Homo sapiens: one gene and its partners. The protein of the gene in region 1 purifies or fractionates together with the protein of each later gene. This does not show direct contact. Each region holds a gene or a part of one and is shown in the gene's direction. Other genes may lie near its edges.

Evidence for each region.
Region 2: the proteins of USO1 (region 1) and CEP68 purify together in Homo sapiens (affinity purification with mass spectrometry, with the first as the bait; one large-scale study listed by BioGRID). This does not show direct contact.
Region 3: the proteins of USO1 (region 1) and TRIP11 purify together in Homo sapiens (affinity purification with mass spectrometry, with the first as the bait; one large-scale study listed by BioGRID). This does not show direct contact.
Region 4: the proteins of USO1 (region 1) and OSBPL11 purify together in Homo sapiens (co-immunoprecipitation; one large-scale study listed by IntAct). This does not show direct contact.
Region 5: the proteins of USO1 (region 1) and PLCH1 fractionate together in Homo sapiens (co-fractionation; one large-scale study listed by BioGRID). This does not show direct contact.
Region 6: the proteins of USO1 (region 1) and FAM184A purify together in Homo sapiens (affinity purification with mass spectrometry, with the first as the bait; one large-scale study listed by BioGRID). This does not show direct contact.
Region 7: the proteins of USO1 (region 1) and POLR1B fractionate together in Homo sapiens (co-fractionation; one large-scale study listed by BioGRID). This does not show direct contact.

What each region holds. Positions count from the first base shown.
Region 1 is NC_000004.12:75,811,577-75,814,786, forward strand, and holds the end of USO1 (general vesicular transport factor p115), read left to right. Parts: intron 1-583; coding exon 584-799; intron 800-1,629; coding exon 1,630-1,719; 3' UTR 1,720-2,710; downstream 2,711-3,210. UniProt on the Homo sapiens protein: General vesicular transport factor required for intercisternal transport in the Golgi stack; it is required for transcytotic fusion and/or subsequent binding of the vesicles to the target membrane.
Region 2 is NC_000002.12:65,083,916-65,087,415, forward strand, and holds the end of CEP68 (centrosomal protein of 68 kDa), read left to right. Parts: 3' UTR 1-3,089; downstream 3,090-3,500. UniProt on the Homo sapiens protein: Involved in maintenance of centrosome cohesion, probably as part of a linker structure which prevents centrosome splitting. Required for localization of CDK5RAP2 to the centrosome during interphase. Contributes to CROCC/rootletin filament formation.
Region 3 is NC_000014.9:92,005,560-92,009,059, reverse strand, and holds part of TRIP11 (thyroid receptor-interacting protein 11), read left to right. Parts: intron 1-1,207; coding exon 1,208-1,420; intron 1,421-2,611; coding exon 2,612-3,500.
Region 4 is NC_000003.12:125,550,498-125,553,997, reverse strand, and holds part of OSBPL11 (oxysterol-binding protein-related protein 11), read left to right. Parts: intron 1-1,318; coding exon 1,319-1,817; intron 1,818-3,500. UniProt on the Homo sapiens protein: Plays a role in regulating ADIPOQ and FABP4 levels in differentiating adipocytes and is also involved in regulation of adipocyte triglyceride storage. Weakly binds 25-hydroxycholesterol. Interacts with OSBPL9 to function as lipid transfer proteins.
Region 5 is NC_000003.12:155,493,572-155,497,071, reverse strand, and holds part of PLCH1 (1-phosphatidylinositol 4,5-bisphosphate phosphodiesterase eta-1), read left to right. Parts: intron 1-2,554; coding exon 2,555-2,734; intron 2,735-2,823; coding exon 2,824-2,931; intron 2,932-3,500. UniProt on the Homo sapiens protein: The production of the second messenger molecules diacylglycerol (DAG) and inositol 1,4,5-trisphosphate (IP3) is mediated by calcium-activated phosphatidylinositol-specific phospholipase C enzymes.
Region 6 is NC_000006.12:118,959,263-118,961,463, reverse strand, and holds the end of FAM184A (protein FAM184A), read left to right. Parts: intron 1-1,279; coding exon 1,280-1,361; 3' UTR 1,362-1,701; downstream 1,702-2,201.
Region 7 is NC_000002.12:112,569,965-112,573,464, forward strand, and holds part of POLR1B (DNA-directed RNA polymerase I subunit RPA2), read left to right. Parts: intron 1-2,597; coding exon 2,598-2,794; intron 2,795-3,500. UniProt on the Homo sapiens protein: Catalytic core component of RNA polymerase I (Pol I), a DNA-dependent RNA polymerase which synthesizes ribosomal RNA precursors using the four ribonucleoside triphosphates as substrates.

The sequences.
Region 1 (3,210 bases):
CCTGTCAGCATATTATTGTGTGACAGAGACATCAGAATAAATAGCATGAAGAAAGGAATGAGGTCACATTAAGGAAAATAAGGAAAATAATGTATAATTGTGCTTTTTGGATTGTGGCCAAATTATTTTATTTTTAAACCATAGATTTTTATTTGAAGCTATTTTCATTTAATTGTATGCTTGAAGTTGGGATAAAAAATTTTTTTTTAACTTGAGCTTTGAGTTCTAAAATTCTGGTACTAATCAGACTTCTTCTGTAAAATGCTTTGTGTTTCTGTTTACTCCTTTGATTATCTGAAATGGTACTGTTTTTTTTAAGTCTCTTAAAGGTTTTTTCAGGGATAGCTAACTAAAACTATTTTTTGGATGTTAAACTATTTTTTGGCAATAACCATTTTTGATGAACAGTCTAATAAATTCATGTTAGTGTGTGTGTTAAACCTCCTGTACCCTTAACCTCCACCCCTAAATTCCTTAGGTTGAACAAGTACAGTGATTTGTCATAGAAAGAAACTATTTGTTAAAAACTCTAGGAAAGTGAGTGCTAATTTTAGATTCCTGCCTTTCACCTTTCTTTTCCTAGAATGAAATTAAAGCTCTGTCTGAGGAAAGAACTGCCATTAAAGAGCAGCTGGATTCATCTAATAGTACCATTGCCATTTTACAAACTGAGAAAGACAAACTAGAGTTGGAAATTACAGATTCTAAAAAAGAACAAGATGATCTCTTGGTGCTCTTGGCCGATCAAGATCAGAAAATACTGTCATTGAAGAATAAACTCAAGGATCTTGGTCATCCAGTAAGATTAAAATGTCTCCAAAAATGATTTGTATTATGTTTTAGTATAATGCATTTAAAAGATTTTTAATGTAACATGGAAAAGTTGTGCCTGTATTATAGGAATGGATATGTGGGTTCATGAATATGGTACCATCTATACTGTTTTCACTGTTTTCATTGAATTTACTTAATACACAGATTAGGTTCAGTTTTCAGTACTTACAGACTATTTTCTTTTGGACCGTAAGCCTAGAAAGTGAATTGATTTGATTGGTAACAAGACTGTAGTCACCCAAGCATGTCATTATCTTTTGCCATGTTTGTTTCAGATTTGTGTGTAAAGAGGTGTAGCCATTTATCAGCAAAGTTAACTGATATATCTCATTCATATTAGAAATGACAGAGAGCCTTGGCATCAAATCAAAGAAATCAGATGGCTTATATTCTACTGTAGTTACTAGAATACAAAATTTGTCTGGGCACAGTGCTCACACCTGTAATCCTAGCACTTTGGGGGGCTGAGGTGGGCAGATTACCTGAGGTCAGGGGTTCGAGACCAGCCTGGCCAACATGGTGAAACCCCATCTCTACTAAAAATACAAAAATTAGCAGGGCGCTTGGTGGCAGGCACCTGTAATCCCAGCTACTCGGGAGGCTGAGACAGGATAATCGCTTGAACCTGGCAGGCAGAGGTTGCAGTGAGCCGAGATCGCACCATTGCACTCCAGCCTGGGTAACGAGCAAAACTCCATCTCAGAAAAAAAAAAAATTATCAGTAGTATATATTGTTAAATGTTGAATGTGACATGAACAGATTTTCACAATATTAAATACGTCTTTTTCCTCTAGGTTGAAGAAGAGGATGAACTTGAATCTGGAGACCAAGAGGATGAGGATGATGAAAGTGAAGATCCTGGCAAGGATCTAGATCATATCTAGTTTTCAAATCTCTAGGAACAATAGAGATTATATCATAACTCTGAAGATGGACTCTAAACTTTGGTTTACCTCCATGGAAAATAAAGATTTAGAAACCAGGTGGAAAACATTCACTATTAAGACTATTGATATATTTTTGTAATGTTGCCACCCATGTTGAAAACCTTAAAACTGAATTTATGTAGAACACACATCTTTTATTTAAATCCATCTGAACTGTCCCAAAATGTAATTTGCAAAGAGCTTCAAACACCAAAAATATACCATTTTAAGGCATGTGGTGACAATGCTATTTGCCTTAGTTCATTCGTTGTTTACTTTGCAAAATTTGTGACTTTTAAGTACTAACACATTTGATTGAATGTGTATTGAATTGGAATTATTATTTCTAAATTCAGCATTTGAGTCCTTAGTTGATGATTTTCTTTTAAAGAAATTAGTTTATTTAAAAGCAAGATAGCCTGGGTTGGGAGTTAGTGCATATCATCAGCCCTCCATCTAATGTGATTGCTAAGATGTGCAGGATAGGACAGCTTAGAATGAGTGCCTTGACACCTACATATGGCTGCATTCCATACCTCAGTGAAGAAGCCGAAGGATGCTGACACACAGTGATGTGGAGGGCATTCCGGAGAAACTTTTGCAACAGTGTATTAATGTGATTGGTTTTCTTTTTGTTTTAAGCTAAACATCTAAAACAAATTTCAAGTTAACAGTTCATACAACTCAGATTTAGTAGTATTGTTTATCATAAAACATATTATGTTCCTAGTTTTAAAAAGACCCAAAGTATGATTAATATAATTTATTGGCATTTTTGCTGAATAGGTTTAAGTCAGATAATAGATTTTAAAAAAGCAAATGAGGCAATGTGTCAAAATTTAATGTTTCATAATAAAAATAGATACGTTGACTTAATCCTTGGTCATGGTTCCCTTTGTTTACATCTTAAAAGTATTTTATTCTTAATAAAAGATGAGGCAAGTGAAAATGATGAGGCGACTTTTCTTATTAGGGGTACACAACTATAACTGAATGTTAAAAACAATCTTCTTTAAAACCAATGATTATGATTCCCTAAGATTGGAGGGGGTTAGAAGTACAGAAGTAGAAGAGGTTGGAAAAGGGTTTGGACGTTTTTAAATTCAGCACTGGAGTTCTTGGCAATGATTTCCTGTTGAAGAAGTGGGTTTACTTAAAGACAAGATAGCCTGGGCTAGAAAATAACGTATTTATCTGCCTTCTGGGGTCAGGAATAGGACACAACTTTTGAAAGAGAAGGAAGGTCACTGTCTTGATGAAGGAGACAGCTGTGTGTTACAGAGCACTCGTGAATGCTGCACTGTGCCCATGTTCCACCACTACTGCCATCCTAAGGTGGCACTTGCCATCAGAGAAAGAACTATATTACTGTCACCAGACCAGCTCAGATAGGTGAGGTCTTCCTAAAGTTGACAACCACATAATGAACCATGAGTTAATGACTACCTT
Region 2 (3,500 bases), on another chromosome or scaffold:
CCTCTATCCCATTAAAAAAGAGCAGATAAAGCTCAAACTATTCCACCTGGTAGGGTCATTTACCAAGGGCTGGTAGGAGATTCCGAATACTCAATATTCTCAGGCATGCAAGAGGACCTAAGAGACTGAAAAAAGTGAATTGTTGGCCAGAAACCTTGGGTCTTTTCATAAAAGGAAATTTGGGCTTGTCAATCCCTCTTTAAAGATATAGGTAGAAAGAAGAGATTTTTAACCCTTTGTCTGCAAAAGAAAAAGGGTTAAATGAAGCATCTATACAGATGACTTTGGGAGATTATGACACCTTTTGCCATCTTCAGGGCTTACGTCTTTACTTTCTTGGCTAACCAGTTTCTTAGAAGAAAATGTGTCAGGGACTTGGGGATCTACAGTCATGCTTTAGCATGGCTATGGAGCTAATTATCAAGCTTAAAGGGTAACTTTGGGAGGACTCCTCCCTTCACTCCTAGTCTCCCTTGGAAGAGCAGTCCAGGCTCAGGGAAGGGAACGGATAGGATGACACAGTAAGTACAGAAACTGAAGCTGTCAATAGTGAAGGAAAAAGGGGAATTCTTCGTTGCTTTGGCATTGACACATAAGTACTTTGATTAAAAAAAAAAAAAACTATGGATCAACCATTCAAAGCATCAATTCTATAGCTTTTTGCAGCAAGATGATCAGTTATTGCTGGTAACTGCAGATTCTACAGAAAAGCACTTTTAAAGTTCTGTTGGGCCATGAATGAACCTGGAAGGAGGAAAGCACAGTAACAATGGAAACTAAAGTCCTATTATTAATGTGACTTTTCTGCTTCAGAATTTCTGAGACTTTATAGTCACTGGAAAATAGCCATTAAATTCTTTAAAGATTAGCTCTTCAACAGTAGCTACACATAAAATGCAGTATTTCAAGTGCCTGATGCTGCTGTGGTATGCTTTATCATAATGCTTAAGGGCATGATCAAAATTAAAATGGCTTATGAGTTTGCCATATTAATCATCTTAGTTCCATACACACTGAGACTTTAAAAGGGAAAAACCACTCTAGCAAATAATTGTCAATTATAAACCTGTATGTAAAACATTCTTGAAAACCTAGAGTTGGTTAAAAAGGTAGAGATGTCTGACGGCCTCTTCTTAAATTGATATATTTTACCTTCTCTTAGATGTACATTTATAAGTAGGAACATGTCCTTCCACTGAGTATGTTACTGAATAGCCCTTAGGAAATTAAACCCATTTATTTACTAATATTTGACAGGCATAGAAGTGTATTAATTAGCATAAAAGTTGGAGATGAAAACCCTATAGAAACAAATTGGCCAATATTATACTAATTGAATGCAGAATGTGGCATTCTATTCCCATTCAACTAATAATCAGCTTCAACTGACAGGAATTTGCACAGAATGTTACACAATACCCTGTTTCCCAAGAAAGTACTACCTTACCTAGAGATGATCTAAGATATTTTTGTTCATCCTCTGAATAAGGTGAGACTAAAGGGTGCTAACTCCCTGGACCTGGCTGTGAATGCTACTGAAGAGTATCAACACAACTGTTAATTATACCGCCGTGCTTTAAGTTTAAGACTTACCTTAAAACTCAAGCTGAAGGCTGGGCACGGTGGCTCATGCCTGTAATCCCAGCACTTTGGGAGGCCGAGGCGGGTGGATCACAAGGTCAGGAGATCGAGACCATCCTGGCTAACACGGTGAAACCCCATCTCTACTAAAAATACAAAAAGAAATTAGCCAGGCGTGGTGATGGGCGCCTGTAGTCCCAGCTACTTGGGAGGCTGAGGCATGAGAATGGCATGAACCCGGGAGGCGGAGCTTGCAGTGAGCTGAGATGGCACCACTGCACTCCAGCCTGGGCAACAGAGTGAGACTCTTGTCTCAAAAAAAAAAAATCAAGCTGAAATTGTTTCAGCCTAGTAAGATGCTGCCAGCAGCATTTCTATGAGCAAACATGGCCAAATTAGAGTCAAGTAGCTGAGCTTGCTAACTGCACTGTGATGCCACACTGGAATAACTTAGTAGTCCCTTAAAATTAATGGAAGTTAAATCCACAGGGAAGTGATGATACTCAAAGCTGGATCAGCAGTTTCAAGATCTGGGTTCTTGGAGATCCATAGGTAAGCTCAGCAAATGGAAGACGACGTCAACACGGCTATTTTGAAGCTTAGGTGGGAATGGAACACAAAGAAGGTTTGAGGTAAGATATGCTGGAAAGGCAAGATGTAGGCTAAGGGAAATTCAATCCAAGGTCGAAGAATAGGAAATTACTGCTCAGACCACAATGACTATCATTCTGAAAGGATTTCACAGAGTGTGCAGCTGCTTAGATTTAAGAACACTCTTCTTCACTATGTAAACTAATTTATGGCAGCACCTTATATTTAGAACAAGTGGTAATTCCCTTTACTAAGTGAACAGATTATTAAAACCTGTAGTAGCTTTGAACCGTTTGTACTTGAAAATGGGGGTATAAAGGGGTATATATTTTTTCCAGAACCACATTTATTGGCGTATACATAGAAGCAAATCTTAAGGCATGCTGAAATTTGTTGTAAATCCCAATCTTTACTGCCATGGGGAAAAGAACGCTGGAATTTTCCAAACTTAAGTCTGTAAATATGCTCATCTTAAGTTCATGTAATGTTTCCGCTAACTCACCAAGAATAAGCTGACAATTTAAACAACTTTTACTGTGTAAAAATGAAGTGCACGGCATGGCATCACAGTATCTTGACATTTGTTTTGTGTCATTTAGCTACTTTAGAAAATAGTTTCTGAACTCTTTCCCCCTTTATACTGTATTAAGGCAAAAACAAAACTTCTGAAGCATTAAAGATCTTCACCAAAATAACTATTGGTAACTTCAGGAATTTGTCAGTTGCCTTATGTGAGGATGAATAGATCCACCAAGCACGCCTATAATACAAAGTAAACTATGATTTTTATTGTGAAATTTTCATAGATGGAAAATTGAATATTCTGTCCATTTCATTTTACAATTATCTTACCACTTATTTTTGTACCATGTATTTCAATTGCCTGTTTAGTGAAAAATAAAAATTAAAAAAACCTATTCATTTTTGGCTTGTGTTTAGCTTAAATTTTATCATTAAATTAAGGAGCCCACAACAAAATGTGTTGCCAGCAGCCATATCCCAAGCCCCTGCGTGAAGAATGTTTTGGCTGCTATTTCAACCTAAGGAAACAACGTTTGACCTCAGTCACCTTAAAATGCCAGTGTGGGCAGAAGATTTTTTATTCCTCACAATTAAAAACCAAACAAAACCCCCTAGGATCTTGAAGGTCCTATTTCAGAAAATCTTCATATATGCAAAATGTCACCAAAATAAATACATTTGCCTCAATTATCATTACCACCCAGTATTCATGTTTTAATTTTTAGGGATATAATTTCTAAATTTAGAGCAATCAAATTTCCTGCTTCCTATCTTAATGCTTAAACCCTCCTCCAACACCAAGTTAA
Region 3 (3,500 bases), on another chromosome or scaffold:
AATAAATTTTTGAATTAGAAGGAAATAAGAATTGTGATACAGATACTCTAGTATAGCTTTTATCGGATCTCTGTTTTTTCAACCAACTCTCCATAGCAATGTTGAGTTTCTTTTATAAGGTTTATATTAGGCTGTTTCTTTGAAGGAATTTGAGATTCTTATTTTTTTAATTTTATTTTTTAGAGAGAGAGAGTCTTGCTGTATTGCCCAGGTTAGAGTGCTGTGGCTGATCATGGCATGATCATAGTGCACTACAGCCTTGAACTCCTTGGCTCAAGTAATCCTTCTGCCTCAGCCACCTAAGTAGCCTCCTGGGACTATAGATAAATGCCATCATGCCTGGTTCAATACTCTATTTAAAGTAGATTCCATATGGGTTTGATTTTTAAAAATCTGTCAATGAAAGAAGGCTTTAATATATAGTTTATTACAAACATCATAACTAGAGACTGAAATAATGTTGAAGCATAGAGAACTGTCCCACTTCTGAGATTTTGGAGAAAGCATTAAATACCAGGTAGTAGACTATAAAATGTATATATACTATCTTTAGGAATGTCAGGTGTGACAGAGGGGAACCTAGTCTGGTTAAAAGGTAAAGGAAGGAAGGAGGATTCTTTCTAGGGTCAAGAAAAAGTTCCATGTTCTAACAGAAGCAAAAGTAATAAGGGAAATTCCTTTAGTAAGAGAAAAGAAACCTTTTATTTTCTAATTAGAGAGGCTAAACATTTGGGTGAAGGAGTGTTGATTTTTTATATTTTTATTTAGTCTGAGGCTGTTGATGACTGGATGTTAGAGAATGGAAGTGAGGAAGGCAGAAAGACTTGCGGACATTTTGGAAAGTATGTATGTATGGTAGGTGGGGCCAGGGGATGGATAAAGGGTAGCCACGGTGGAGCAGGATAGGAGAGGCTCTCAAATGGGAACGTTTTTTATAAAGAAGAACTTGGTGCTAGAGGACAAACTTACAGTCGCTGCATCTGTCTAGGGTTATAGAAATGTTTTGCTTGAAGCTACAAGTAAAATTGCACATGAATGAAGGATGTGGTTTGTTGAATTTCACATACAATTATTGAGGTATTGTTCAATATTATTTCCAATATAGAGCACTTAAATAGAATCCCAAGTTTTGCTTCTATGTATGTTTTTAATCTTTTGGTGTCTCCAATTGAAAGTATGTGTTGCTTTTTTCCTTTTATCATTTCAGGAAGAACTTCAGATGTCACTTTTAAAATTGAACAATGAATATGAAGTAATTAAAAGTACAGCTACAAGAGACATAAGTTTGGATTCAGAATTACATGACTTAAGACTTAATTTGGAGGCAAAGGAACAAGAACTCAATCAGAGTATTAGTGAAAAGGAAACACTGATAGCTGAGATAGAAGAATTGGACAGACAGAATCAAGAAGCTACAAAGGTAACACTGTATTAAATACAGTAAGGCAGCACATTCTACTAAGTAAACTAAACACAGAAATGGTGGGTGTGATTTAATTAATATTTTAGTTCATAGAGATTGACAAACCTTTTTGGTAAAGTGCTAGATAGTAAATATCATTGGCCTTGTAGGCCATATTGTCTCAGTCTACTCAACTCTGTTGTTGTGATACCAACAAATGAGTGTGACCATGTTTCAACAAAATTTTATTTACAAAACAGGCAGCATCCCTGAGTTGGCCAATGGCTATAGTTCGTTGACTCTTACTCTAGTGTAGAGTTAAAAATAAACAACATGCCGGGCGCAGTGGCTCATGCCTGTCATCCTAGCACTTTGGGAGGCAGAGACGGGTGGATCACGAGGTCAGGAGTTCAAGACCAGCCTGGTCAAGATGGTGAAACCCCGTCTCTACTAAAAATACAAAAAATTAGCCGGCCGTGGTGGCAGGTGCCTGTAATCCCAGCTACTCGGGAGGCTGAGGCAGAGAATTGCTTGAACCCAGGAGGCAGAGGTTACAGTGAGCCGAGATCATGCCACTGCACTCCAGCCTGGGCAACAGAGCGACTCTGTCTCAAAAAAAAAAAAAATACTATTTACCATCTTTGGTTTTAAATTCTTATCCCTAAAATGCTTTAAGAAATGACAAGATGGGGCCAGGCACAGTGGCTCATGCCTGTAATCCCAACACTTTGGGAGGCTGAGGCAGGCAGATCACCCGAGGTTGGAAGTTTGAGACCAGCCTGACCAACATGGAGAAACCCCATCTCTACTAAAAATACAAAATTAGCCGGGTGTGGTGGCGCATGCCTGTAATCCCAGCTACTCGGGAGGTTGAGGCAGGAGAATTGCTTGAACCTGGGAGGTTCAAGAGGTGGAGGCGGAGGTTGCGGTGAGCCGAGATTGCGCCGAGCCGAGATTGTGCCATTGCACTCCAGCCTGGGCAACAAGAGCGAAACTCCGTCTCAAAAAACAAAAAAGACAAGATGGGTTTGCTGTAAAATAATAATAAGTAATTTTGTAGTGGGTGTTTTTGATAGAAAAACAATGTTTTTAAGAAGGATTAGAAATATTTGAGGATTATTTTCTATTATGTATGAGATTTTATAAAATTTTCTTTGAGTACTAAAATGAGAACATGTTGTAAAGTCACCATGCAAATTTTTCTTTCAGCACATGATTTTGATAAAAGATCAGCTATCAAAACAACAAAATGAAGGAGATAGCATCATCAGTAAACTGAAACAAGATCTAAATGATGAAAAAAAGAGAGTTCATCAACTTGAAGATGATAAAATGGACATTACTAAAGAGTTAGATGTACAGAAAGAAAAGCTAATTCAAAGTGAAGTGGCCCTAAATGATTTACATTTAACCAAGCAGAAACTTGAGGACAAAGTAGAAAATTTAGTAGATCAGCTAAATAAATCACAAGAAAGTAATGTAAGCATCCAGAAGGAGAATTTAGAACTTAAGGAGCATATTAGACAAAATGAGGAGGAGCTTTCTAGAATAAGGAATGAGTTAATGCAGTCTCTAAATCAAGACTCTAATAGTAATTTTAAGGATACCTTACTTAAAGAAAGAGAAGCTGAAGTTAGAAACTTAAAGCAAAATCTTTCAGAATTAGAACAGCTCAATGAAAATTTAAAGAAAGTTGCTTTTGATGTCAAAATGGAAAATGAAAAGTTAGTTTTAGCATGTGAAGATGTGAGGCATCAGTTAGAAGAATGTCTTGCTGGTAACAATCAGCTTTCTCTGGAAAAAAACACTATTGTGGAGACTCTAAAAATGGAAAAAGGAGAGATAGAGGCAGAATTGTGTTGGGCTAAAAAGAGGCTGTTGGAAGAAGCAAACAAGTATGAGAAAACCATTGAAGAACTGTCAAATGCACGTAATTTGAATACCTCTGCCTTACAGCTGGAACATGAGCATTTAATTAAACTCAATCAAAAGAAAGACATGGAAATAGCAGAACTCAAAAAGAATATTGAACAAATGGATACTGACCATAAAGAAACTAAGGACGTTTTGTCATCTAGTTTAGAAGAGCAGAAGCAGT
Region 4 (3,500 bases), on another chromosome or scaffold:
ATCTGTGCATATTGTAACCTACTGCCTAAGTTTCAGCTTTCTAGTTAGGAACTCTCAAAATTTTGTTGTGTTTTGTCTACTTTCCTGGTATCTCTGGGTTTGTCTTTATATGAAGTTAATTTAATTTCAGTGGAATTTCGACAGAAAGTGAAATTAAGATGCATGTGTTCAATTCACCAGCTGAACCTGCAACATCCACTGTCTTTTGTATTATTTGTATCATCTTCAAAACCGTCTTTTTAAATGACTATAATAGTCAATTAAATGAAAGTTCCCTACTTCAGTTAGCTAGAACCGTAGTTTAAAATGCAGGTTGTTCTAATTATTTTTTCACATTGCTTTTCCTTCATTCAATTATTTATTTCCTAAGGCTAGATTCTTGGAATGTAAGTACTAGGCTAAATGGGTAAGAACATCTTAGGGCTCTTGAAAAATATTGCCAGATTTTGCTTTCTCAGACGTTTAAACCATTTTGCAGTGCCTCTCCCAACTCTGCTTTAAGTAAAATATTTATCTTTCTTACACTTACCTGGTTTTAAGTATAAAAATTTCTCTTATTGGAAATAGTTCTCTTGTGCTTAAGATTAAATATATGTTGCAGTTTTTGCTTCGGTCTGTGATCTCTTTAGTCTGTTCTCAGGGAATGACATTTATTGACTTTTCTCATGTCTTGGTCATTCATCTACAATTTAATTTTAACATAGGAAAGGAGCAAAGGCATGGCTAACATTTACTTTGAGTTTTAACACCATTTCCCTGGTGATACTTTTATCCAGTCTAGAAGTTTGAGGATTTTTTTGAAGTTTCTTCTGACTCTCTTGAATTTATGTTTAGTCTTGGGCAGATTTGCCTGTCCTTTTAAGAATGCTTTTTTGTTGTTGTTGTTAAGACAGGGTCTCACTCTGTTGCTCAGGTACAAGTGCAGTGGCGCAGTCATGGCTCATTGTAGCCTTGACCTCCCAGGTGATCCTCCCACCTCAGCCTCCTGAGCAGCTGGGACCACAGGCACAAGGCACCATGCCCAGCTAATTTTTGTAACTTTTGTAGAGACACGGTTCCACTATGTTGCCTCAGCTGGTTTCGAACTCCTGTGCTGAAACAATCCTCCCAACTTGGCCTCCCAAAGTGCTGTGATTATAGGCATGAGCCACTGCGCCTGGCCAAGAATGCTTATTTTTTAATGTGACTGAATACTTTTTCTTTGTGACTTTGTTTTTAATACCCATCTAGAATGAAATGTTTTCAGAGAGAGAATAGTTGTCTACAGATATGCTACACATGGATTAAATTTCCCCTCTTTCATTGATTGTTGTTTTAGGTGGTGCTTCCTACATTTATCCTAGAGAAGCGTTCCTTGCTGGAAATGTATGCAGACTTTATGTCTCATCCAGACCTATTTATAGCCATCACTAATGGAGCCACAGCTGAGGACAGAATGATTCGCTTTGTTGAGTACTACCTTACCTCATTTCATGAAGGCCGTAAGGGAGCCATTGCTAAAAAACCATACAATCCTATCATTGGAGAAACATTTCACTGTTCCTGGAAGATGCCAAAAAGCGAGGTAGCATCCAGTGTTTTTAGCAGTTCTTCCACCCAGGGAGTCACAAATCATGCTCCTTTATCGGGGGAGTCTTTGACCCAGGTGGGATCAGACTGTTACACAGTCAGATTTGTTGCTGAGCAGGTTTCTCATCATCCTCCAGTCTCAGGATTTTATGCAGAATGTACAGAGAGGAAGATGTGTGTAAATGCGCATGTCTGGACTAAGAGCAAGTTCTTAGGCATGTCAATAGGCGTGACAATGGTTGGAGAAGGTAAGTAGAAAAATTATTTTATATATATATATATATATACACACACACATATATATATGTATTTTTTTTTCCAAGCAGGAATGAAAGTTTACTTTAAAAGGCTTTAGAACAGGAAAGAAAGGAAAGTTCGCTTGGGAGAAACCCAAGCAGGCACGTGAAGGTCAAGTGCCTGTTTTATAATTTTTAATATCAAACTACAATCTTAAATTTAGGAACCCCAGATAAATATTAACTCTAAGTTTAAAATATTATGTTACTTTTTCGCTCCAATTTCTAGAGTGTTCCAGAATGCTTCTTGTGGGGATGGGAGGAGTATATCTATGAACTAATGTAAATTCTCTTTTTAAATTATTTTTTTCTGATTTTAAATATTTCTTTTCGTTTGTTTTCTTTTCTTTTTTTTGAGATGGAGTCTCGCTCTGTCATCCAGGCTGGAGTGCAATGGTGCTATCTCCGCTCACTGCAAACTCCGCCTCCCAGGTTCAAGCGATTCTCCTGCCTCAGACTCACGAGTAGCTGGGATTATGGCGCCTGCCACCATGCCACCACACCCAGCTAATTTTTATATTGTTAGTAGAGATGGGGGGTTTCACCATGTTGGTTAGGCTGGTCTCAAACTCCTGACCTCTGATGATCCACCCACCTCGGCCTCCCAAAGTGATGGGATTACAGGCATGAGCCACCGTGCCTGGCGATTTTAAATATTTCTTATCAAATATTTGGAAAACTAGAAAAGTACAAAGCAGAAAATAAAAGCTTCTGTAATGCCTGCATCCATATATATATAAATTTAATATTTTATACTTTTTCTGTGTGTGTATGTTCATACTTTTAGCCTTATAAAATTAGAATTAATAATATATATAGTTTTGAGTCCTGCTTTTTAAATTAAATATATTCATTTTATCATGTCATTGATAAAACATATTTTAATGACTGCATAATATTCTATGAAATAGATTTTCCATCCTTTTTTTTAATTTAATTTAATTTAATTTTTTTTTTTTTTTTTTTTTAGAAACAGGGTCTTGCTCTGTTGCCCAGGCTGAAGTGCAGTGGCATGGTCATAACTAACTGCAGCCTTGACCTACTCGGCTCAAGCCATCCTCCTGCCTCAGCCTCCCAAGTAGCTAGGACTACAGGCATGCACCACCATGCTAGGCTAATTTTTTTAATTTTTATTTTTAGAGACAGGGTCTCAATATGTTGCCCAGGCTGGTCATGAACTCCTGGGCTCAAGTGATCCTTTGGCCTCCACCTCCAGGCATTAGCCTGTAATCTCAGCACTTTAGGAGATGGAGGCCAGAGGTGCTATTCATAGAATATTTAGGTGCTATTCATAGAATATTTAAAAATATATGCTGATAAAAGTTAATTCTACTTCATCAGAAGATTATGAAAAAATTATTTTTGGAAATGCAGAGTTTTTTGACCAAGAATATGAAACAAAAACAAAAATCTCCACAGAAATTATTGAAGAGTTAATGAAAATATAATGATAGGAAAAAAATACCACTTTTATGTTAAAGGAAAACTCTTATGCAAAGAACACTATGCTCTGAATGTCATCTTACAGTGTAAGCATGGCATCATTAAGCCAATCTAATATTTTGAGATTGTGTTATAGTCGTTATGAAGAAAGTATCCTCTTTTTCAGTTTTCCTCATTTTTAAGTTCTGTTGT
Region 5 (3,500 bases), on another chromosome or scaffold:
ATTACTATACAAAGACAAGTGCCTCAGGGCAAGATCTTCCTGCAACACTTGAACTGTGAAGTCCAGGCCCGGCTTGAGGACCAGGTCACAGATGGCCATTCCAAATGCGAATGACCAAAAGAAGAAATTAATTGGCTAAAATCACACCTTGAAAAGCCCTATATTTTCTCAATGAAAGTTTTGACTTGGGTGAAAATAGCTTAATCCAGATTGAAGTTTTAACAAAAAGAGCAGAAATCTCAGTAGCATTCTCTCCGTCACTGTTTTTTACCTATCAGTTGCCACACGGAGCTGAGAAATTCTAGTCACATCTATTCATATCCTTGGCTTTCCTGCTAGTTACTCTTGTCTCCTTTATCTTCTATTTCATTTAGTTACTGAATGCTTACAGAAAAAAAACCTACTGTCATGTGGCTTTTCATCTAATTTTAATTTTAGTGGAACCGAAATGTAAATCAGGACCTCCAAATTTCTCAACAAGTTTTAGTGAAGGGAAAACAACATTGTGTCCTCACAAACCTCCAGGATTCTTCCCTCCCATCTCCCCCTGCCCAGCCCCCACTCCACAAATGTATCTTTTTCTATTTGCAGAAAGATTTCTTCCCTTTGGCCTTGATTCCTTCTTCAAATGGTAACAATTATACAAGATTTAAATGAATTTCACATGTGAGAGCATGAGAACCTGTAGGATTCTCAGCAACTGAGCAACACACTCTTACAACAATTGCCCTTAGCTCAAAAATAAACTCAGGGAATGATTGCATTAAGTTAAAGGTATATTTGGTTTAGGGAATAAAAATTTCCAATAAATGGCTTGGAAAACATAATCCTATTAACTTAATGGAAATTAATCTTGAGTACTATTTAGCTCTGGAACTTCAGCTGTTTTTGTCTTTTTAATTTTTTTGCCAGCCACAAAATGAAAACTAGATAATGAATGCATGGCTTATCCTAATGTGATACAACTCAACTCTATTAATATACTAATTGATATGTGCCTAATTAGCAAGGTCGTATCAATGATATTGTGATGTGCATATTTATGTAGAGAGACAGACAAAACAGTAGTAGTGATTATAGTCCTATTCTATCTGAATTAGGCTTGTCAAAAAGATATTTTCTCCTATAATGTTTAAAACATCCCTCATCAAAATCTGCAATTAAGTTCAATATTAGTATGCTTGAGATATGTAAACTGTGTTAATAGGTTATGCCAATAAAAAATATATGAACATGTATCTTTAAGGAAAGGGTCTAAACTAGAAACATCATCACATTAAAAACTGTAATCCTCTCATTTCTTTGCCACAGTTTGTATTCCTGACTCTTCTAACTCGGGAGTATCATTGTCAGTTGGGCAGCATCTAACATCTAAGGGTGTACAACCCTGAGGACCACAGGGGCCCTGGGAAACTGTGTGTTAATAAACATGCAGAGTCTAGATATGACTCAGGCCCAGCTGGCAAAGCGAGACCATATACAGTTCAACTCTTTGGTTTCATGGACCACATCTCTCTGTCTGGGCTCAGACACACTCAGCTTATTAGGGCTGAATAAGAATGAGATTCTGGGTAACTTTGGGTCTTTTTATCTGGGCTGGTCTTTTCCAGCATGTTCAAATGACATATGGGCGGCCATTTTGGGGATAGGGTATGGGTTCTTGGTGAAGGAGTGGAAATAGCGGGGGCTTTGTAGATATGGTACAAAAGGTGGGATTGGAGACAAGAGTGGAATATTAAATGTTTGGAGCTTTACTCCATTATGACCCCCAAATTTGCAGCTTCTGTGAGTCTAGATTGACCCCTCCTGATGATTGTGCTGGCAGAAACTTTAGTACAGGCTTCATGTACTTTTACCTTCCTTTACTTTGTTCCATAGTTTATATGCGTGGCTAGGTGAATGTCTGTCTTTGTTCTTAAAACTTTTATTCCTTTATAATGCTTTTGACCTCTTTTTCTCCATTATTATTCCTTTCTCCCAAATAGGTTTTGACTTGTTCCATAGTTCTATTCAAAGCAACTTTAAAACTCAACTTTTTATTTTTATAATTGTTCATTTTCCTTTATTTTCTTGGATCCTGGATGTTACTAGTAATACATGTTTTACTTGTGTGCCTTTTAGATGAGTGCCTTCAATGAATGTCTTCCTGTTATCAGGAAGAAGCTATCTAGTTTTATTTATCCATGGTTGTCTATATATTTGGCAAATATATTCTGTTTAAGTTATTTTTTCTACCTGTTCTTTTCATGCTAGCCAGATAGGCATAAATTAGCGGTATGATTGAATTCTTAGGGAGAACAGGGGACCCAGAAATAGACAGCTACTTGAGCAAGACACACAGCTCTGATTTGGCCTCAAAATGGCAAAAGAACCCTATGAATGGAATGTTATGGGTCTTTTCTGTTGAGGAGCTGCCTCTACTCTGGTTGAATCCACTCTCTAGTGCTCTGCTTTTTGCTATTGGTATAATCTGACATTATTATAAAGTCTTCTGTGCGTGGTGTTTTCTTTGCTGTAGTTCTCACTTCCTTTTTTCTCGATTAAAAACTGCCAGGAACCACAGGAAATGTGTTATCATTCAGTGAAACAAGAGCACATCAGGTTGTTCAGCAAAAATCAGAGCAGTTCATGATTTATAATCAAAAGCAACTCACGAGGATTTACCCCTCTGCCTACCGCATTGATTCCAGTAACTTCAACCCTCTCCCCTACTGGAACGCAGGCTGCCAGCTAGGTGTGTATTCCTTGGGAAGGAGTGGTTCTCTGTATATTCTCACTATGCCACCATCTTGCCTAATTCTCTCCCACTTTCAACTTGCACAGTGGCACTGAATTATCAATCTGAAGGACGAATGATGCAGTTAAACCGAGCCAAATTCAAGGCAAATGGCAATTGTGGCTATGTCCTCAAACCCCAGCAAATGTGCAAAGGTGTGTATTAATTTCATAGTCATAAATGCAGGTGTGTGTTAATTTCATAGTCTAAATGCAGGCAACCTTTATTAAGGAAGCTGTTTAGAAAGTGTGATACCCCAGAGTTTTTCAACTTTTTTTTTTCAAAAAGATAGGTTAAGGTGTTTGAATGTGAATTAGAATTCTTGTCACCACTACTTAATATTTGGTTAGCCGTGATGTTTAGAATGTTATCTTGAGAGGTCGTGTGTGAAAGAGGGACATGGATAGCATTGGGTTATCACTTGAAATCCAGTGCCCCATATAAGCTGGACTGCTTTTTAAGGTCTGAGCCCAATCTTTCAGAAACTATCTTAAGTAATGTGAGTCTGTGACCTGCTGGGAAGCTTCAATTCCACCTGAAACAATTTTATCAAGCCCTTTTACTCAGTGTAGTCCAATTACAAAACAGTGCTAACAAAAGAGAAAGGATAGGCTGGGCATGGGGGCTGACGCCTGTAATTCCAGCACTTTGTGAGGTCAAGGTGGGCGGATCACCTGAGGTCAGGAGTTTGAGACCAGCCTGGCCAACATGGTAAAACGCCGTC
Region 6 (2,201 bases), on another chromosome or scaffold:
TTTTTAAATTAACAATCCATCCTTATTGTAGAACTTTAAAATAATTTTTTGTTTACTAAGTGGTTTTTGTTTTTTATATATGTTTATTTTTTTCCCTTTCTTGTTTACCAAGATTATTTATAAATATATATATATATATGCTTATTGTCAAAATAGAAACATACGTAAACTCTGGGAACTTAAATATACTTATGCAAAAACTAAATTTAGAAAAAATAAATAATTTTAAAAATTTCCATTCCAATTTTTTACCTTGCAGTTGTTGATTAAATGTATTAGCAAATTTTGAATGAAATGCAAATTTCATTAGAAATTTAGCCATTAGATAAAGTCAGAAAGTACTGTTGTTTTATGCTCATCTTACTATTACTGATTTTTTGCTGCTTTATGTTTTTTTTCTTATTCTTACTAAATCTTAGCAGTGTCACTAGTAATAGTCTTACAAAGTAGGCAGGTTTTTTTAGGCTAAGTGATTAGTGACATAGTTAATGATTAACAAAAAAAATAGCAAGAATGAAAATTAGTCAGATACACCTCTGAATTTGTCTCCTGCTAAATATTTTGTGTTGCTTATTTTCCCTTGTGCATGGGTATGTTCAGGTATCAGTAAGATGCATGTGCATGAGCTCAAGGAACATGACTACTGGAGTTTCCATTACACATTGTTGCGTGCCTTGTAATTTTCCCCAAAGACGGTAGGGATTCTTTTGTTTTCTTAAGTAGCCCAAAGAATCTTTAGTTAGAATTAAGAAAAGTATAAACTATATAACATCAATAACGGGGGAAATTATATTTTTAGTGTTCTCCCTTTCCTGGAGTATTTGCATAGGGAATTATGAAATGAAAATTTAATGTAAAATGCATATAGTAAAAAATACTAGTAGTTACTTTAGTTATATTTAAGGACACATCTGTACGATCAGCTAAAAGAGAAAAGGTGCTGAAAGAGAGGACCATTATTTTATTCTCTCGTTTCCCACAATTCTTACTGAATTTTTTATTCAAAGAAGGTGACATTTTTGCAGTTGTTTTTTGTTCTTTGTGATTGTTGTGATGTGGCTCCTCCTTAACTGACTTCATTTGAGCTGCTGATGCACTCTTATGCTCTCATGGAGTGGAGAACCGATTCTAGTATAGAGGGGGTAGCAAATCTTTAAAACACGACTTACAACATGGGGAACCCGTTGTGGTAATCTATGCTGATGTTTTATGTGCTTTTGCCTTCATTTTGCAAAATGACTTAATGCTGGGTTACATGTCTCTCTTTTTATGAATTCAGTCCTGCTCAGAGTGAAGCTTCTCCAGTGGCTTCTCCAGATCCCCAGCGCCAGGAGTGGTTTGCCCGGTACTTCACATTCTGAAAGAATTGTGTTGGCACAGCTCTGTATAGACTGTTACTAAGAGCATGACTTTATACAGATTGTTATGTAAATAGGCTTTCCTATGTCAAACACTGTGAATGAGAAAGTATTTGTCTCTCCAACTTGAAAATGCACTGTATTTCCTGTGATATTTATTGGAATCATTCTATAAGGTACTATATTATGTGTGTAATTATAACTGTTATTTTTATTTGAGATGGAAGAGTCTTTAACCTTTGTAATTACTGCATAATAAATTTTGTTAGAATCAAACAATGCTTTTTATTTTTTTCTACGTTTGCTTTAATTTTTAAATATTTTTTAATTCCAGGTAAGACTTGTCAACAAGTTTTACTGCATTATAATCATGTCATATCAAATTATTTGACTTCAGTAATCATAATAGAATCAGGATAGGGAAATAGAAACTCTTGTTCCAGTACAATGTGTAATTTTAACTAAATTGTTCTCTAAATTTACAAAGCTAGAATGAAAGTGCTTGTGTAAATTGTGGACTTTCAAGTGTATAAAATACTGTTGACTTTTAGGTGGTTTTTTTTTTTTCAGTTTTGATAGTTGAGATCTAGAACTTTAGTACAGTTAGTATCTATAATTAATACTATGTTTTATGGCCAAAAGTCACTGGGTAAAGAATAAATAGTCAATTTGATTTTAATTTGTCTTAAAGGCCAGTTTGATAGTTTTCTAAATTGGTGTAATTAATAGGGAGTGAGACATAGGGGTTTGGAGCTCAGGAAAAGAAAGACTGGGCTACAGATGTTTTGGAACATGGCATGTATGAGATAGAGAAATCCACAAGTGTGGATGAGAACAACAAGG
Region 7 (3,500 bases), on another chromosome or scaffold:
TATTCATATATTTAAACCTTTTGATATTGTTCCATAAGACATTGAGTTTCTGTTCTCTTTTTTCTTTATTTTCTTCAGATTGGATCTTTTTTTTTTTTTCCCGAGATGGAGTCTCACTTTGTTGCCCAGACTGGAGTGCAGTGGTACAATCTCGGCTCACTGCAACCTCTGCCTCCCATGTTCAATAAATTCTCCTGCCTCAGCCTCCTGAGGAGCTGGGATTACAGGCACACACCACCATGCCCAGCTAATTTTTGTGTTTTAGTAGAGATACGGTTTCACCATGTTGGCCTGGCTGGTCTCAAACTCCTGACCTGAAGTGATCTGCCTGCCTCAGCCTCCCAAAATGCTGGGGTTACAGGTGTGAGCCACTGCACCTGGCCCAGATTGGATTATTTTTATTGACCTATTATCACAGTCACTTTTTATTCTGTCTTCTACTGAATTTTTGCTTACAGTCATGTGCCCTTAACGACAGGGATACCTTCGAAGAAGTGAGTCATATGTGATTTTGTCGTAGTGTGAACATCATAGAGTGAACTTACACAAACCTAGATGGCAGAGACTACTACACACCTAGTATATGGTATAGCCTGTTGCTCCTAGGCTACAAACCTGGGTGGCATGTAACTGTACTGTGTACTGTCTACAGTTGTAAGACAATGGCAAGGATTTGTGTAGCTAAACATAGAAAAGGTACAGTAAAAATATGGGATCACCATAGTATATATGCCATCCTGCATTGACTAAAACATTGTTATGCAGTGCATGCCTGTATTTTTCAAGTCCAGCACTTCTACTTGTTTCTTTTTTTTTTCTTTTTTTTTTTTTTGAGACAGGGTATCGCTCTGTCACCCAGGCTGGAGTGCAGTGGCACGATCTTGGCTCACTGCAACCTCTGCCTCCCCAGTTCAAGCAATTTTCCTGCCTCTACCTCCTGAGTAGCTGAGATTACAGGCATGTGCCACCATGCCCAGCTAATTTTTTGTATTTTTAGTAGAGGCAGGGTTTTATCATGTTGGCCAGGCTGGTCTCAAACTCCTGACCTCAAATGATCTGCCTGCCTCAGCCTCCCAAAGTGCTGGGATTACAGGCATGAGCCATTGCGCCTGGCCTGACTTGTTTCTTTTTTTATAGTTTCTTTCTTCTCTAAGATTTCTTATCTTCATTCATTGTGGGCATGTTTTCCTTTATATTTTGAACATAGTTTTATATGATGGGTGTTGTAAAATCATTATCTGCAGATTCCAATGTCTGGGTCATCTTAGTATCAGTCTCTTTGAGTATAAGTCAAGTTTCACCATTTCTTTGTATGCCCAGTAATATCGGATTGTATTATGAACATTGCGAGGAGTATGTTTTAAACCCTGGATCCTGTTAGGGTCCTCTGAAGAGGATTGGTTTTGTTTGTTTTTAGTGTGGTGTTTGGCCTTCAATTACATTTTAATTTTTTTCATTTTATGTCTTTCCTTCTTAATACACAGTCCATCACCTGGTTCAGTGCATGTCACCAAAAATTCTCCAGGGGAAGAGGATTGGTTTTTAGTTTTCACTGGTACTTAACTTGGTGAACGTGGCAGTTGAAGTACATTCTTCAGCCTTAGGTGGGCTGCTGTGATCTGTCCCATGCATGCATAGTTCAGGAGTCCACCAAAGATTCGGACCCAATTTATATGCTGAATTTAAGGGTCTCCCTTTGTGGTTCTCTCATTTCTGAAATGTTCCCCCTTCCCAATTGTTGTCATGCTCAGAACTCTATTTCTTGGTTCTTCAAGCCAGTAAGATTGTGGGTTTCTATCTAAGTTGTAGCTGCCACACTGGGCCATAAGGCAAAAATAAATACATAAATACTTAAAAACCTGGAAATTCACCCAGTGTGTTCCTTTTGTCCAAGTAAAAATTCTTCTCAGCTTCTGACAGCTTTTGGTTACTCTCCAGTGCTGTATGTGTAGTTGGGGGTCTGCGTCTCATACTTATGTGTTGAGGGTGGTCTAGTAAGAGTAGCCCTTTATTACTGGAAGCTCTAAGTCTATAATTTTTTTAAAAATTTCACTTGTATGTATTTATATTTTAAAATCATTTTGTCGTGAAATGATTCTCTGTACTGTGAGGTAGTACACAGAGGAATCTCACCCCATGCTCCACTACTTAGAATTAAATACATATTCCGCTGTAAGAAAGTAATCTAATTACGTAATAATTCCTATCCCCTTTTCTTCCCCGAGTAGTGATAGCCTGTAATTTGCGTACTTCCTTTCTGTCCCCTTCTAAAGCTTTTATTACATCATACATGTATCCATAAACTAAGTATAGAATTGTTTGGGGTGTGTTGCAAATACACATAAATCGTATCATATTAAATGTCAGTCTGCACTTTCTCCCACTCAGCATGGTTTTCCTGGTCTGGTCACGTTGATACATTTAGGTTTACTTCATTTTCACAGCTTATGTATTAGTCTAAAGTAAGCATAACTACCATGACTATTTATTTGTTCATTTTCCTCTGATGGATATTTAGTTGTTTCCAGTGTTGCGTATCACACCTATAATCAAGATGAAAGCAGCAGAAAATGCTAAGATGTTTTTTCTCCATGTAGGTAAGCAAACTATGGGCTTTCCACTTCTCACTTATCAAGACCGATCGGATAACAAACTGTATCGTCTTCAGACTCCTCAGAGTCCCTTGGTGAGACCCTCCATGTATGATTATTATGACATGGATAACTATCCAATTGGGACCAATGCCATCGTTGCTGTGATTTCTTACACTGGCTATGATATGGAAGATGCCATGGTAAGTTTTACCAGGAAATGTTGTTCCAATCTTTTTATTTTTTAACTTGTTTGTTTACTGTGAAATCACTGAAGGAATATTTTTGTGTACCCAAGTACCTAGTATTTGGCACGTGATGTTCTATTAAATGATTAGTTCTTAGTCTAAGTTGAAAGTGGGCAAGCCTTGAGGAATATCCACTAAATATTCAGATACACGTATGTCTTGCATATTTGAGTGCATATTATGAGTAAATTTTGAAGTTTGGTTTTGGATCTATCTACCTTTTATATTTAAGTATGATTAGATTTTAAGCTATTTCTGTGTGCCTGGGTTTTTGTTTTTCTTGTTTTTTGTTTGTTTGTTTTTTGTTTTTTATTTTTGAGACGGAGTCTCGCTCTGTTGCCCAGGCTGGAGTGCAGTGGCACGATCTTGGCTCACTGCAACCTCCACCTTCTGGGTTCAAGCAGTTCTCCTGCCTCAGCCTCTCGAATAGCTGGGACTACAGGCACCCATCACCATGCCTGGCTAATTTTCGTGTTTTTAGTAGAGATGGGGTTTCACCATGTTGGCCAGGCTGGTCTCGAACTCCTGACCTCAAGTGATCCACCTGCCTTGGCCTCCCAAAGTGCTGGAATTACAGGCGTGAGCCACCGTGCCCAGCCATGTCTGGGTTTTTGTAGTTAGTATCAGTGATTTGGAAAATGTGAGGAAAGTTAAAATGTGA